Linked DNA regions of Homo sapiens. The protein of the gene in region 2 purifies or fractionates together with the protein of the main gene of each other region. This does not show direct contact. Each region holds a gene or a part of one and is shown on either strand. Other genes may lie near its edges.

Region 1 (7,901 bases), 4.1 Mb from region 2:
GGTAGTGTAGTGCTACCTTCCATACTCTGGAATACTATCCACTAAGGTCAAAACTATGCCTTCATCAACCAAGAGGCTGACTGACAACAAGGGAAAAAGATACCTGACTGGGCTGCAGATTCAAACCTGACTTAGACTCATGGGTACCTCTGGGGAATTTACTTCTCCACTCTGCCCTTCAATTTTCGTGTCTCTAACTGGGATGTCCTCCATAATCACTAAGGCTCCTTACTGTTCTAAATGTGACAAGCGGTATTTAAAGGGAAGAGTTCTGGTTACATAGTGTAACACCTAACACAGTGTCTCTACCAGGACTTGTACAGTGCAAACAAAGCTTTAGGTAGGATGGTCAGGGATGATGTCTCTGAGTAGGGGAGATATGAGTATATGAGAAGGAGTTTGCCAACCTAAGGGGAAGAGCATTCCAAGATGAAAGAACGCCAAGATCAATAAATAGTCTGGAGGTGGCTATCAGTTTGTAACTTTTGGTTTAGATAATTCTTTATCCATTATGTAGTTGTTACCGTACTATGTTAACATCTCGGGCTGGGTGCAGTGGCTCACACCTGTAATCCCAGTACTTTGGGAGGCTGAGGTCGACGGATCACCTGAGGTCAGGAGTTGGAGACCAGCCTGGCCGACATGGTGAAACCTCGTCTCTACTAAAAATACAAAAATTAGCTGGGCGTGGTGGCGTATGCCTGTAATCTCAGATACTCAGGAGGCTGAGGCAGGAGAATCGCTTGAACCCGGGAGGCAGAGGTCGCAGTGAGCTGAGATCACACCACTGCACTCTAGCCTGGATGACAGAACAAGACTCCTGGCTCAAAAAAAAAAAAAAGTCTCTAGGCTACTTGTCTGTGTCATACTCTGTTTAAAGGCAGAGATGTGTCTTATTCAGTTTCCCAAGCACAGGGACTAGCGCAATACCTAGTACATAATAAATACTTGATAATTGTTTCTAATTGACTTATTATGTTTAAAGATAAGCTCCACAAGGGCACGGATTTTGTGTGTGCATGTTTTTTTCCCCATACAACCCCCAGGGCCCAAAACAGTGCCTGGGATAAAGAACGTACTCAAGGAATGTTTCTGATAGTAAGCATCAAAAGCTTATAAAGATACTTGTTTAATACAATCAGCCCAAAAATTAAAATAGACTATAGAAAAAACATCCATCATGCTGTCCTCTCAGTGCCTTTACACATACTGTTGTCTCTGTCTGGAATGCCCTCTCCATACATCACACACTGTATCTTTTTTTTTTTTGCAAAGGGTCTCACTGTCACCCAGGCTGGAGTGCAGTGGCACCATCATAGCTCACTGCAGCTTTGACCCAGGCTCAAGCGATTCTCCAGCCTTAGCCCCCCGAGTAGGTGGGACTATAGGCTCTCGCCACCATGCCCAGCTAATTTTTGTATTTTTGGTAGAGACAGGGCTTCACCATGGTGCCCAGGCTGACCCTGAACTCCTGGGCTCAAGTGATCTGCTGGCCTCAGCCTCCCAAAGTGCGAGGATTACAGGCTTAAGCCACCACACCTGGCCACATCACACTGTATCTTAATTGACAGGTCATCTATTTGTCTTCCCCAAAAGACTACAGACTCTGGGTAAGTTAAAGGCCATAGGTATCTTAGTTACATGTACATGTTTTTACCCAGAATAAGTCAACAGCTTAGAACAATGTGTTTGTTAAAGACTGAGGCCACACAACACCTCCACAGACTCTAGTGTTTCCACACTTCTTCTTTTTTTTTTTTGCGACAGTACCTCTGTCACCCAGGCTGGAGTGCAGTGGCACGATCACCACTCACCACAGCCTCAACCTCCTGGGTTCAGGTAATCCTCCCACTTCAGCTTCCCGAGAAGCTGGGACTAGAGGTACCTGCCACCAGGCCTGGCTAATTTTTGCATTTTTTTGTAGAGACAGAGTTTCGCCGTGTTGCCAAGGCTGGTCCCAAACTCCTGGGCTCAGGCGATCCGTCCACCTCCATCTCCCAAAGTGATAGGATTACAGACGTGAGCCACCACGCCTGGCTATGTTTCCCACACATATGTTATTTGATCCATATCTTCACCATTCTCACTGTATTTGAATGTTCCTAACATTCCCTTAATATTTGTTTACAAGAAAAAATTTTATCCCTACTGTAAACTGAAAACCACTTATATTTGACATAACGTGAAATTAGACATAAAATTATATAAAATCTTTAAATGTTCTATTTTTAGCTAAATACAGGTGCCTATTAAAAGCTCTGAGACTAAGAACTGCTCTCTGAAAAGACCTGGGGATTAAAGAAGTGCTGAAGATACACACTAGCACCGAGCACAACTTCTCCTAAATGCGAAGTTGAGAACTGAAAGAGAAATGAAAAGGGAACAATTTCCCTAACACATTATCTGATGCTCCTTAATGTGGGGTCCATGTACCACCTACCACCTAAAAGCACCTTAAATACCAAAAGTCCATGTCCCAAGTTCTGAGAAACAGTAATTAATGAGACCCCACTTTACCCTCCTGGGAGCGAGACAGGGCCGGATTCTGGAGTTGAGACAAAACTGGATTTATATTTTTTTGCGGGGCAAAGAACTTAATTAACCTTTCTGTATCTCGTTTTCTGTAAAATGAGAAAAATGAGATCTCTCTCACAGGGTTGTTGTAGAAATAAGCGAGGCGTTTCATCTGCTGCCTGGGGCTTAAGTATACAATAAATATTAACAACTACCATTATTTCCCTTTCAAAACAACAACAAAAAAGAACGTGAAGCCAGACAGCAGAAATGAGTTGCGTGGGGTCTCAGGGTTCCCAGTACACACACCCGCCGGCTCACTCCCTCAGGACCCAATCTCCCGCCTTCCACGAACTCCTACTTTTCTCTCCTTGTCCCCGCAGATCCTCACCTTCCCGCTGCCCGCGGGGCCCATGACCAGCTGCGCATACCGAGGCATGTTGGCTCCCGGAGCCGCCCGCCACACTCCCTTAGCCTTCGCGCGACGCCCACTGAGCTCCGGGAAAGTGAAGTGCGAACCAATCGCAATCCACATTCTTTCTACGCCTCCAGTTCTACCACACCTCCTACTACGGGGCAGCCCGCGGGCCAAATCCCGTGAGAAACGCGTCCTGAGAAAAAAGGGGAGGGGCGAGGGAGAGGATTTGCGCGTGCGCAAAAGTAGTTGATGGAAATCGGCCGTTGGGATGCTGTCTAAGCTTGGATACCTGAGTAATAACGGACAACAGATAAAGCTCCGCATCCTTGCGCCACGTGCTTCGGTCCGTGGTTTGCGTGCAGACGTTTGACCTGTATGGTGACCCTCGCGATTTGCAAATGTGCTGAGGATCTGGAATACTGAAGTGGAAGGCACCTCTTGTTTTGGGGAGCATGTATATTTCCCTCCTGTGACGCACTGCTTCCACAGAGAGGTGCAAACGTGCAAACGCTCAGCGACCGCAGCGCTCCTGCCCCTCCCCCACCGTAACTCCGGGGTCGCGGATCTGCCCGCCCCGCTCTCCCGAAGCTGTTCGGGCAGTGTCCGAACGGCTTCGGAGGGGCGAGAAGCCAGCATCCGAGCCGCCTCTCCGGAATACCAGCAGCCTGACGCACGCGTGCTGTCGGGGGAGGGATGCTGGGACAGCTGCTCCCGCACACGGCTCGCGGTCTCGGCGCCGCGGAGATGCCCGGCCAGGGTCCGGGGTCCGACTGGACGGAGCGTAGCTCTTCTGCAGAGCCGCCCGCTGTGGCCGGGACCGAGGGTGGCGGCGGCGGGTGAGGTTGGGGGCCCCGGGGTAAGGGTGGCAGCATGGGGCCCCCGGGTCGTGAGGCCCCCGGGTCGTGAGCCCCGTGGAGGAGGGCTGCGGCCGACCTCTCGTCTCGGGGGCTGGCCCCGGTGCCCTCAAGTGAGAGGCGGGGAGCAGTTTTGTTGTGGACAGAGGGCAGAGGGGAGGACTGCCTCGCGGTTGAGGGAGGGTCTCTGAGGGAAGCTTCGGAGGAGCGTTTGGTGCAGTGGCCACGAGGTGACTGCGACAGTCGCCCGCGTGCATCTCTCTGCCCCGAGGGGGCGCTGCGAGCCCTGCTGGGACGTTTGCTGTCTGGCACAGGACTGTGTGTCCACCGAAAGGCGAGGCGGGAGGGACAGAGGAGGAAGATGTCCCCCGGTTCAACTGGGGGCATCCAGGCCCATAAACCAGTTCCTTCCCTCTAGTGACATGAGCCACCTTCCTGTCAAACGGGGATTTCTTTTTCTTTTTTTTTCTTTTCTTTCTTGTTTTTTGAGAGCGAGACAGTCTCGCTCTGTTGCCTAGGCTGGAATGCGGTGGTGCGATCTCAGCTCACTGCAACCTCAGCCTCCCAGGTTCAAGTGATTCTCCTGCCTCAGCCTCCCGAGTAGCTGGGATTACAGGCGCCTGCCACCACGCCCGGCTAATTTTTGTATTTTTAGTAGAGAGGTGGTTTCACCATGTTGGCTAGGCTTGTGTCGAACCCCTGACCTCAAGTGAGCCGCCCGCCTCGGCCTCCCAAATTGCTGGGATTACGGGGTGAACCATTGCGCCCGACCTCAAACGAGGATTTCTAATCGCCAATGAGACCAATGACTGAATATCCGAGGTGCCTTGATCTTGACATTTTCTTCACACTGAAGTTCCTTTTTTCACAAATCTATTTCGTTTTGAGCAGGTTTTTACACCTATTTCCTAGATAGTGAAGACAGCGAGCTGTTGAAGTCACTGCTGGAGACTCTACCTCCTCTTCCTCTCCCTACTTTATTCCCTAAAAGCAAGAACTGCGATATGTTTGCCGTTCAGTACAACCCGCAGTCAGGGCCCCTGTTGCACCCATGGCCATCCTTTTTGTTTTTTTTTTTTTGAGACAGAGTCTCGTTCTGTTGCCCAGGCTGGAGTGCAGTGGTGCCATCTCAGCTCACTGCAAGCTCCGCCTCCCGGGTTCACGCCATTCTCCTCCCTCAGCCTCTGGAGTAGCTGGGATTACAAGCGCCTGCCACCACGCCCGGCTACTTTTTTGTATTTTTAGTAGAGACGGGGCTTCACCGTGTTAGCCAGGATGGTCTCGATCTCCTGACCTCGTGATCCGCCCGCATGGCCGTCCTTTTTGTCTCTGGTGCTACTGAAGACTTCTTAAAGATGGGATGGAGTCTTGGGTTTCTTTTCTGTTCTTCACAGTCCTTGGCCGACTGCAGGATCCTGGTGTATCAGGAGATACGTGAATTTTTTTTTTTTTTTTTATTGAGACAGAGTCTCCCTCTGTCACCCAGGCTGGAGTGCAGTGTCACGATCTCAGCTAACTGCAACCTCCGCCTCCTGTGTTCAAGCAATTCTCCTGCCTCAGCCTCCCAAGTAGCTGGGACTACAGGTGTGCGCCACCACGTACCTGGCTAATTTTTGTATTTTTAGTAGAGATGGGCATGAGCCTGTAATCCTGGAAGGTTCTATTATGATCCCCACTTTATGGATGACAAAACAGGCACAAAGAGGTTGTTTGTCCTTTCCTTTTATCTCCGCCTGTCGTTCATCTCCATGCTTCCTTTAGTTTATCCAAACTCTTAAAACTACAATTAAAAAAAAAGACAGTATGCCCTTCAGTTTGGTTTAAGGAACCCCATTAAAAAACACAAACCAAGACTAATTTATGAAAAGCTTATATTCCCAGAAATACAAAATAAAATTTTCAAACTAGAATCAGGTTTATTATGCTACATGATACAATGTTGGCACTGGCAGGGGTCTTAAAAATCATCAATTCCGGTCATATTTACTAATCTGAAAGGGGAAGTGATCTGCCAAAAATCCCATTATTAACTAATGGGAACTCCGGAACTCCTTACTTTTTTTCTTCTTTTTTTTTGAGATGGAGTCTCGCTCTGTCACCCAGGCTGGAGTGCAGTGGTGTGATCTTGGCTCACTGCAACCTCCGCCTCCCAGGTTCAAGCGATTCTCCTGCCTCCTGAGTAGCTGGGACTACAGGCACGTGCCACTACGCCTGGCTAAGTTTTTGCATTTTTAGTAGAGAACGGGGTTTCACCATGTTAGCCAGGATGGTCTCGATTTCCTGACCTCGTGATCCACCCGCCTCGGCCTCCCAGAGTGCTGGATTACAGGCGGGAGCTACCGTGCCCAGCACTTTTTTTCTTTAAAGTCAGGTTTATTGAGGCATAATTTACACAAATTAAAGTCTTACTTTTTCATGTATAATATGATGGGTTTTGACAAATGCACATGGCTATGTAAGCACTGCCACACTAAAGATACAGAGCAGCTCTATCACTCCTTCAAAACTCCCTCATACCTTATAAAGTCAACCTTTGAGAAAGGAAGACACAGGAGGGTTGCCAGCAGAGAAGTGATGTGATCTTACTTTACTTAAAAAGGATCACGCTGGTTGCTAGTTGGAGAATAAACTAGAAGGAGCAAGCGTAGAATTAAGAAGTTGGAATACAAGAAAACGATATGGTGGCTTGGAATAAAATAGCAAAGGAAGCGGCGGTGAAAAGTTCATAACAAAAACTTTATAAACTTGGCGCCTGGCCCATGAACTCTTGGTCATTGAATAAATTGCAGGATGAGGATCAGTTGTTTTGTCTTAAGTTTAGAAAAGAAAAAGAATTTGTACGAAATTAGAAACATTACAGACCAACTTATTAGTTCTAGCACACCTTAATTACTATTCAAAGAACAGTCTTTCGGCATGGCGTGGTGGCTCACACCTGTAATCCCAGCACTTTGGGAGGCTGAGGCGGGCGAATCAGTTGAGGTCAGGAGTTTGAGACCGGCCTGGCCAACATGGCGAAACCTTGTCTGTACTAAAGATGGAAAAATTAGCCGGGCGTGGTGGCGGGCACCTGTAATCCCAGCTACCGGGAGGCTGAAGTGGGAGAATTGCTTGGACCTGGAAGGCGGAGGTTGCAGTGAACGGAGATCACGCCATTGCACTCCAGCCTGGGCAACAGAGCAAGACTCTACCTCAAAAAAGAAAAAAGAAAAAAAAAAAAGAACAGTCTTTTCAATACCCAAATCACTTCATTAAAAATAAAGACAGCAAGATAATCACATGGATAGCCCAGGAGCCCCAACTACTTTATTGAGCTCACTGTAGGAATGAGATTAGGAAGCTATAAAATTAAGACCCAGGATAGGCATGGTGGCTCACATCTGTACAAAAATTAGCCAGGCGTTTTGGTGGTCCTGGCTACTTGGTGGCTGAGGATCGTTTGAGCCCAGGATTTTGAGGCTGCGGTGGGCTATGATCACGACACTGCACTCTAGCCTGGGTGAAGGAGGGAGACCCCATCTCTAAAAAAGGAAAGAAAAAAATCTTGGAGCCATTAGGATTTAACCAGAATTATAGGAAAAAATTTGTAAGACATTATTTCTGATGGAAACATGAAAAGTAAAAATAATATGCAACACTATCCTTTTTTAAAATTTGAAATATGTTGGTTGGGTGCAGTGGCTCACACCTTTAATCCCATCACTTTGGGAGGCTGAGGCAGGCAGATCATCTGAGGTCAGGAGTTTGAGACCAGCCTGGCCAATATGGTGAAACCGTCTGTACTAAAAATACAAAAATTAGCTGGGTGTAGCAGCGCTAGTCCCAGCTACCTGGGAGGCTGAGGTGGGAGAATCACTTGAAACTGGGAGGCAGAGGTTCCAATGACCTGAGATCATGCCACTGCACTCCAGCCTGGGTGACAAAGTGAGACCCTGTCTCAAAAAAAAAAAAAAAAAAAAAAAAAAAAATTGAAATATGTTGTTCAGTGCTTGTAACATTGTAATTATTACATATTATTTATATGCTTTATTTTTTCAACAGATCAGCTGGATACTCTTGTTACCAGAATTCCAAAGGTTCTGGTGAGTAGTGCATATAAAGCAGATAATACTTAT
Region 2 (7,022 bases):
CAGTGGAGAAATCTGGAAGATCCTACCTTAATCAAGTGAACAAAGTTAAAATCATTAGTAATAAAATATATTGGCATCTGTAACCCCAATACGAATCAGTGAGAACAGCATAAAACATTGCTTCTGTGGTATTCTTGCCAAAAATGTATAACCCAATCAGACGTCATACAAACTCAAATTAAAGGAACTTCTACAAATACTGACTAGATTGTTCAAAAGTGTCAATGTCATGAAAGACCAAGAAAGATTGAGGAGACTAAGGATACAAGACAACTAAACATAACACGGAGCTCTGGATTGATTCCTACACCAGAAAAAGGACATTTGTGAGAAAACATCAAATAAGGTCTACAGATTAGTAGACAACATCGTATCTGTGCTAACTTCCTGGTTTTGATCATTGTGCTATGGTTATGTAAGATGTTAATATCAGTGAAGGCTTGGTGAAAAATATTGAAGAATTCTTTGTACTACTTTTGCAATTTTTCTTTTAAGCTTAACATTATTTCAAAATAAAAATTTAAATATTTAAAACCTAATAGTTTCAAAATTTTCCCAACCATAGCTCATTATAATTTGCCAGTTAAAAATTTAATTTGAGCACTTTATAGTTAATAAAAGACAATGATTTATTTTTTCATTTTTTATTTTTTTGAGTCAGAGTCTCACTCTGCTGTAAAAGATAGAGTGCAGTGGCACAATCTCAGCTCACTGAAATCTCCCCGTCCCAGATTCAAGCGATTCTCCTGCCTCAGCCTCCTGAGTATCTGGAATTACAGATGTGCACCACCACGCCTGGCTAATTTTGTATTTTTAGTAGAGACAGGGTTTCACCATGTTGGCCAGGCTGGTCTCGAACTCTTGACCCCAGGTGATTTGCCCACCTCGGCCTCCCAAAGTGCTTGGTATTACAGGCATAAGCCACCGAGCCTGGCCAAGACAATGATTTTAAAAGAGTTTTGATAGCAACTTCACTCACTTTAAAAAATGTTAGATGTAACCCACATAGCAAATTAAGAATGTTGGTTCCTTACTTTAAGTACCACATAGGGTCAGCGTCACTTGTAACCTTTTCATTGGCTTTCATTATCTTCTTTATCTGCAGTGGAAAATGCAACATTAGCAAAGACTCTGGCTTCCAATTAATCCTTAGTTTATGTCTATTTCTAACATCTGATGCTTACCTCTACATTAATGAAATAGTTAAATGAATCTATATGCTGTTTCACAAGGCCTTTCACCTAAACAGATAGAAAGAGAAAGTAAACAGGTTAGCAAAAGTGCAAAGAGTACTGATGATATGCTCAAATAATAGATCATATAATGGAATCTAATAATAGGTGAACATCAAATTTTTATCAAAATCAAAATGAGAAAAATAATCCATGAATTTTATTTAATAAATCTTTTCATTAATGCATTCTCATTCCATTTCTGCATCGTCTTACTAGCATATCCTCGAGAGTTTTCCTCCTTGAGAAGCAATCTGACTCTCGGAAATCAAAATATGAGTACATGAATATATGGTCATGTGCCACATAACAACATTTCATTCAACTACAGACCACATATCTGACAGCAGTCCCATAAGATTATAATGGAGCTGAAAAATTCCTATCGCCTAATGACTTACAACTTGATTTGATTTCATAGAGTGTATTTCTGAAAAGAATGACCCCTCCTCAAGAAGAGCCTCCGGCAGGTCCTTCAGCAAGTATTCTAGAAGAAGGTATTGTTATCATAGAAGATGACAGCTCCATGTGTGTTACTGTCCATGAAGACCCTCCAGTGGGACAAGGCATGGAGATGGAAGACAGTGATATTGATGATTCTGGCCCGGGCTAATGTGTGTATTTGTATCTTAGTTTTTAACAAAAAAAAAATTTTTTTTTTTTTTTGAGACAGAGTCTCGCTCTATTGCCCAGGCTGGAGTACAGTGGTGCGATCTCGGCTCACTGCAACGTCCGCCTCCCTGCATCAAGCAGTTCAGGTGCCTCAGCCTTCTGAGTAGCTGGGATTACAGGTGCCCGCCACCATGCCCAGCTAATTTTTGTATTTTTAGTAGAAACGGGGTTACACCATGTTGGCCAGGCTAGTCGGTCTCAAACTCCCAACCTCAAATGATCCGCCTGTCTTGGCCTCCCAAAGTGCTGGGATTACAAGCGTGAGCCACTGTGCCCAGCACCCAGCACCTTCTTCTCCATTTATGTGCAGCTCCTTTTAAAAAATAACAAAAAGGCCAGGCAAGGTGTCACATTCCTACAGTCACAGCTACTCGGGAGGCAGAGGCAGGAGAATCACTCAAACTCAGGAGTTCAAATCCAGCCTGGGCAATGTAGCAAGACCTGGTCTCTTAGGGGGAAAAAGAAACTTCTTGACCTTACGACCATTTTATTTGATTCTTGGTCACTCCCCAACTTAGAAACTCCTCAATAGCTTCCTACGGCTTTTAGAAGAAAAGCCAAATCCTTAACACGGCTTTCAAATCTGATCAGGAAACTGGCCCTGACAACTCCCAGCCTCGTTTCCCAGCACTCTCCCCTCTGCCCATAACACGCAACTGAACTCTAGAGTAGAGTCCAAAATGAGTAGAGACAAAACTCTACTCATTTTTCTTTTTTTGAGACGGAATCTCACACTGTCGACCAGGCTGCAGTGCAGTGGCGCGATCTCGGCTCACTGCAACCTCTGCCTCCCAGGTTCAAGCTATTCTCCTGCCTTATCCTCCCAAGTAGCTGGGATTACAGGGGCCCGCCACCACACCCAGCTAATTTTTTGTATCTTTAGTAGAGACGAGGTTTCACTATGTTGGCCAGGGTGGTCTCAAACTCCTGACCTCGTGATCCGCCCACCTCAGCCTCCCCAGGTGCTGGGATTACAGGCGTGAGCCACCGCGCCCGGCCTCATTTTTCAAGTCTCCATTCTTTCACTTAGCACAATGCTTTCAAGATTCGTCCATGTTGCAGCGGGTACCTGCTTTCTTTTTATTGCCAAATAATACTCTGTTGCACAGATACATCCCATTTTGTGTATCCATCCAGCAGCTGATGGCCATTTGGGTTGTTTCCACTCTTGGCTATTATGAATAATACTGCTATGAGCATTTGTGTACAGGTTTCTGCATGGACACATGTTTTCATGTCTCTTGGACAGATATCTAGGAGTGGAATTGCTGGAGGATGTGGTAACTTTTTGTTTAACCATTTGAGAAACTGACAGCCTGTTTTCCAAAGTGGCTATAACACTTTACGTTCCCACCAGTGGAGCATGATAGTTCCCATTCCTCCACACCCTTATTAACATTTGATTTTGATTATAGCTATCCTAGCGGGTGCCAAGTGGTCTCTCACTGTGGTACTCATTACTTCTTAGCATAAGCTCTTGGAAATTGAATTGAAGCCCGACACCACATCATATCATATTCAGCAGCTCCTCTTGACTGGTCGCTATTTCCTGCAGACTCTGTGGAGGCTCCTCTTGAACACCTTGATTGAGCCACGCTCTCTGCACCCAGCTTTCAGGCTTAAACCTTCTTCTCTTAAGATGTGGTTTATGTCTCACTTCATTTGGGTGGCCCTCTCTGACCATTGCTCTTTTGCTGATAGCACTTTGGTTTTTAATCATGTGCCATGCTACTGTGCATGTACTACTACTTCTCTCTAAAATTAGACTACCACTCTCCAAACCAGCACCTTTCAGGCAGGGATTTTACCTTATAATTCCTTGTATTTCCAAACACAGCTATACAAAATCAAAAAATGTTGATGACAAAAATTTAATCTTTAAAAAATGGCTTATTTCTTGACTTTTTCATCTGAAAAATAACCAATTATTATTAAATGTGAAACAATTACCTTTAAAAATGCTGGAAGCAGCCTCCATTTTTCCTGTGAGCCAAAACAAGAAGAATATCAGAACTCTGTACCAGCAACAGTACTTTCATAAGTTATTTTAATGTTCCAAAATAAGCAAAGGAAAGTAAATCAAAACAAAAAGAATAATTTTTAAACATTTTTATGGAAATCACATGTGTGCATATGCATATAAATATGTATACACATACATACATACACTACAGGTTTCCTAAACAGAATATAACTTAATCTCTTCCTGATGACTCAAGATTTTAAGCACTTTTCAATCCTTTATTTTATTCTCATGACACTTCCTAAGTGAAGTTTGCCAGTTTGAGAAAAGGAAAATAAGGCTCAGAGAGTCTGGTGGGAGAGCTGGGTCTCAAGACCCAAAGGGAGTTCTTTCTCCCTCCCATTCTCTCTCAACTACTGTCTGGTCAGAGCTCATCTCAGGGCTACAGAAGGATGACACATATGGTGATTGCTTCCTACATTGCCTGAGCAACTAGAGGGATAGAGTTAAAATTGATGGAGGCGAGGAACATTGTAGGAATAGCAGGTTTAGGTGTGGAGGGGCTACTAGAAATTTGGTTTGGGTGTGTTAAGCTTGAGATCTCCATTAGACATTCAGGTGGAAATGTCAAGGAGGCAACAAATGAGTCTTGAATTCGGGAATGGAGTGGCCTGGAGATATAAACTAGGAAGAGATTAACAAGTGGATGGCAATTAAAGGCACGTGATGGATGAGATCACCTATGGAATGTAGATGGAGAAGAGTTCCACAAAGTGAGACCAACCAAGAATAATCCAACAATCAGAGAGGAGGAGCAGGAGGCAGCTCCAGCAAAGGAGACCGAGGAGTGGCCAGGGAAGGTGGCAGACCCCTGGGTATAGTCAAAAACAAGAGAGGCAGGCAAAGCTAATCTATGATGACGGAAATCAAAAGGTGCTTGGGGGGATAGACTGAAAAGGGTCATAAGGGAACTTTCTGGGGTGATGCAATGTCCACATAGAGCACATAACTATAAAACCAATGTAACTGAATATCTAGTATCCATACATTTTATTATATAAATTACACCTAAATTTAAAAATAGAAGAATGACAATGATATAGGTTGAATTGTGTCCCTCTCAAAATTCATATGCTAAAGTCCTAATCCCCAGTATCTCAGAATGTGACTGTTTTTGAAGATGGGGTCTTGACAAAGGTGATTAAGTAAAATGAGTCATTAAGGTGAGCCCTAATCCAATACAACTGGTGTCCTTATAAAAAAGGAGAAATTGGACATAGAGATGCACACAGGGACAATGCCATGTGAAGATGAAGGTAGAGGTCTCAGTGAAGCTTCTGCAAGCCAAGGGATGCCAAAGATTGCCAGCAAACACCTGTAGTAGGGGACGGCCCAGAGCAGATCCTCTCTCATAGCCCTCAGAAGGAGCCAGCTCTGTTGTCACCCTGATCTCAGACTTCTAACTTCCAGAACTATGAGAAAACAAATTTCTGTTGTTTAAGCCACCTAGTTTGTGGTTACTTTGTTACGGCAGCCCTATGAGCTAATACTCCCACATCTTCAAATTCCTCTCTCTACACCCCTTCTTATACTCGTTTCCTCCCACTTCAAAGGAAGGACCATCCATTCCTTGGTCTAAGGCTAACCCTTCCGCCACAGACACAATCCTGCCAACCTTCTCCTGAAGACTGGAAACCTTGCCCCAGTTCAGTCCTTGATATTCAACCTGTTCTATTTAAAACGAGTATTCAAATCCTCCCATTAAAAAAAAAATTTAAAACTTTCTTGACTCAGCAGCTCCTCTGACTACTTTCTTCCCTGCCCTTCAGCTTACGATCTCTCCCAAATTACTCCATATTTAGCTTCTCTGTTCCTCACTTCCCACTCCTTCATTCCGTTATAGTCAGGACTCTGACCTACCTGCCAGTGAAAGAGCTCGACAGAGGTCACCAAGGCTGCTACTTCAAAAGACCTCCCTTGATGCCCCCTCACATTCCCTTTCCACAGTATTTGGCCATGCCGATCACTGTCTTATAACACTCTGTGGTATCATTCTCTTATGTCTTTCCTTCCTCCGGCCGGGCCTTGTCACACCTCTTTTTCTCTGCCACCCTGCAAATTTTGGTGTTCTTCAAAGTTCTATCCCTGGCGATGTCTTTTCTCAAGTAGGGCTGGGAATGGAGGATTTCAAACAACACTGTTTGAAAGTGTTGTTTAGCTTCCCCCATCTCATCCCACAGCCCCCCAGTTCCAAATGTGGGCTCTTTCAAGGGCAGTGACCCTGTCTATCCTGTTACCACAGTGCCTGGCACATAAAAGACTCCAATAAATACTGAATAAATAAATGAGTGAGTGAATATCACTGTTGCAGTAAGCTACTGGGTATGGGCCTGTCCCCTCCAACTATTGACTGGGCAGTGATACCTTACAGCCTCAGAGGCTACTTAAGATCAGTATGTCCAAAATTAAATCTTCCCCCAGCTCCATTCTCAATCTCAATGAATATCACCATTTATCCCAGTCAATCCCAAATTAGATACCCGGGAGTCCTAACTTTCTGACTCTTCTTAATCAACAGGAAAACAAAAATTCTACTGAGTCGACCTCCTTTTAACCTTCCTCGCATTTATCCTCTGCTCCTGTGCCAGTTGAGGCCCTCATAATCTTTCAGCTGGTCTGCGGCAATACTTCCTTACTACTCTTCCTGCTCGTCCCTTTCAATGCTCAGCACTAAAGCCAGTGTACATGTCCTCATGTGCACAGCTGAGCACCTCATTCTCTACAACTCTTCAGTGCCTCCCCACCCTCTTCACCATGTCTTAACTCCACAGCGAGGCATACATCATATGCTGTGCTTGCAGCTGTACTTGTGCCTACGCCTCCTCCTTCTATCTGGAATGCTTCCGCACCACCACACTTCATCCACATCTGGCAAACTCAGTTCAGGCATCACATCCTAGCTACCATTTGTAATACCAAAATACCCCTCGCCTACTTGTATCACAGTACCTATTGCATGTTATTCCACTTGCTTACACGTCTCTCTCTATAAGCCTATAACACACTGGGAGGCAGAAAACACATTTTTTGAACTTGTATAAACCCTGTGAATAATACACCACCAGGTAAGTACTCAGTAACACTGACAAATATTT

What was found.
Region 1: the proteins of POLR3B (region 2) and GPN3 purify together in Homo sapiens (affinity purification with mass spectrometry; 5 studies listed by BioGRID and IntAct, with this or other methods). This does not show direct contact.

Annotation. Positions count from the first base shown.
Region 1 is NC_000012.12:110,465,251-110,473,151, forward strand, and holds the start of GPN3 (GPN-loop GTPase 3), read right to left. Parts: upstream 2,954-7,901; coding exon 2,906-2,953; coding exon of another isoform or gene 2,876-2,905; intron 1-2,875. Other genes in the region: protein FAM216A, read left to right, coding at 3,626-3,768, 7,828-7,868. UniProt on the Homo sapiens protein: Small GTPase required for proper localization of RNA polymerase II (RNAPII). May act at an RNAP assembly step prior to nuclear import.
Region 2 is NC_000012.12:106,360,735-106,367,756, reverse strand, and holds part of POLR3B (DNA-directed RNA polymerase III subunit RPC2), read right to left. Parts: intron 3,888-7,022; coding exon 3,855-3,887; intron 1,242-3,854; coding exon 1,185-1,241; intron 1,100-1,184; coding exon 1,035-1,099; intron 1-1,034. UniProt on the Homo sapiens protein: Catalytic core component of RNA polymerase III (Pol III), a DNA-dependent RNA polymerase which synthesizes small non-coding RNAs using the four ribonucleoside triphosphates as substrates.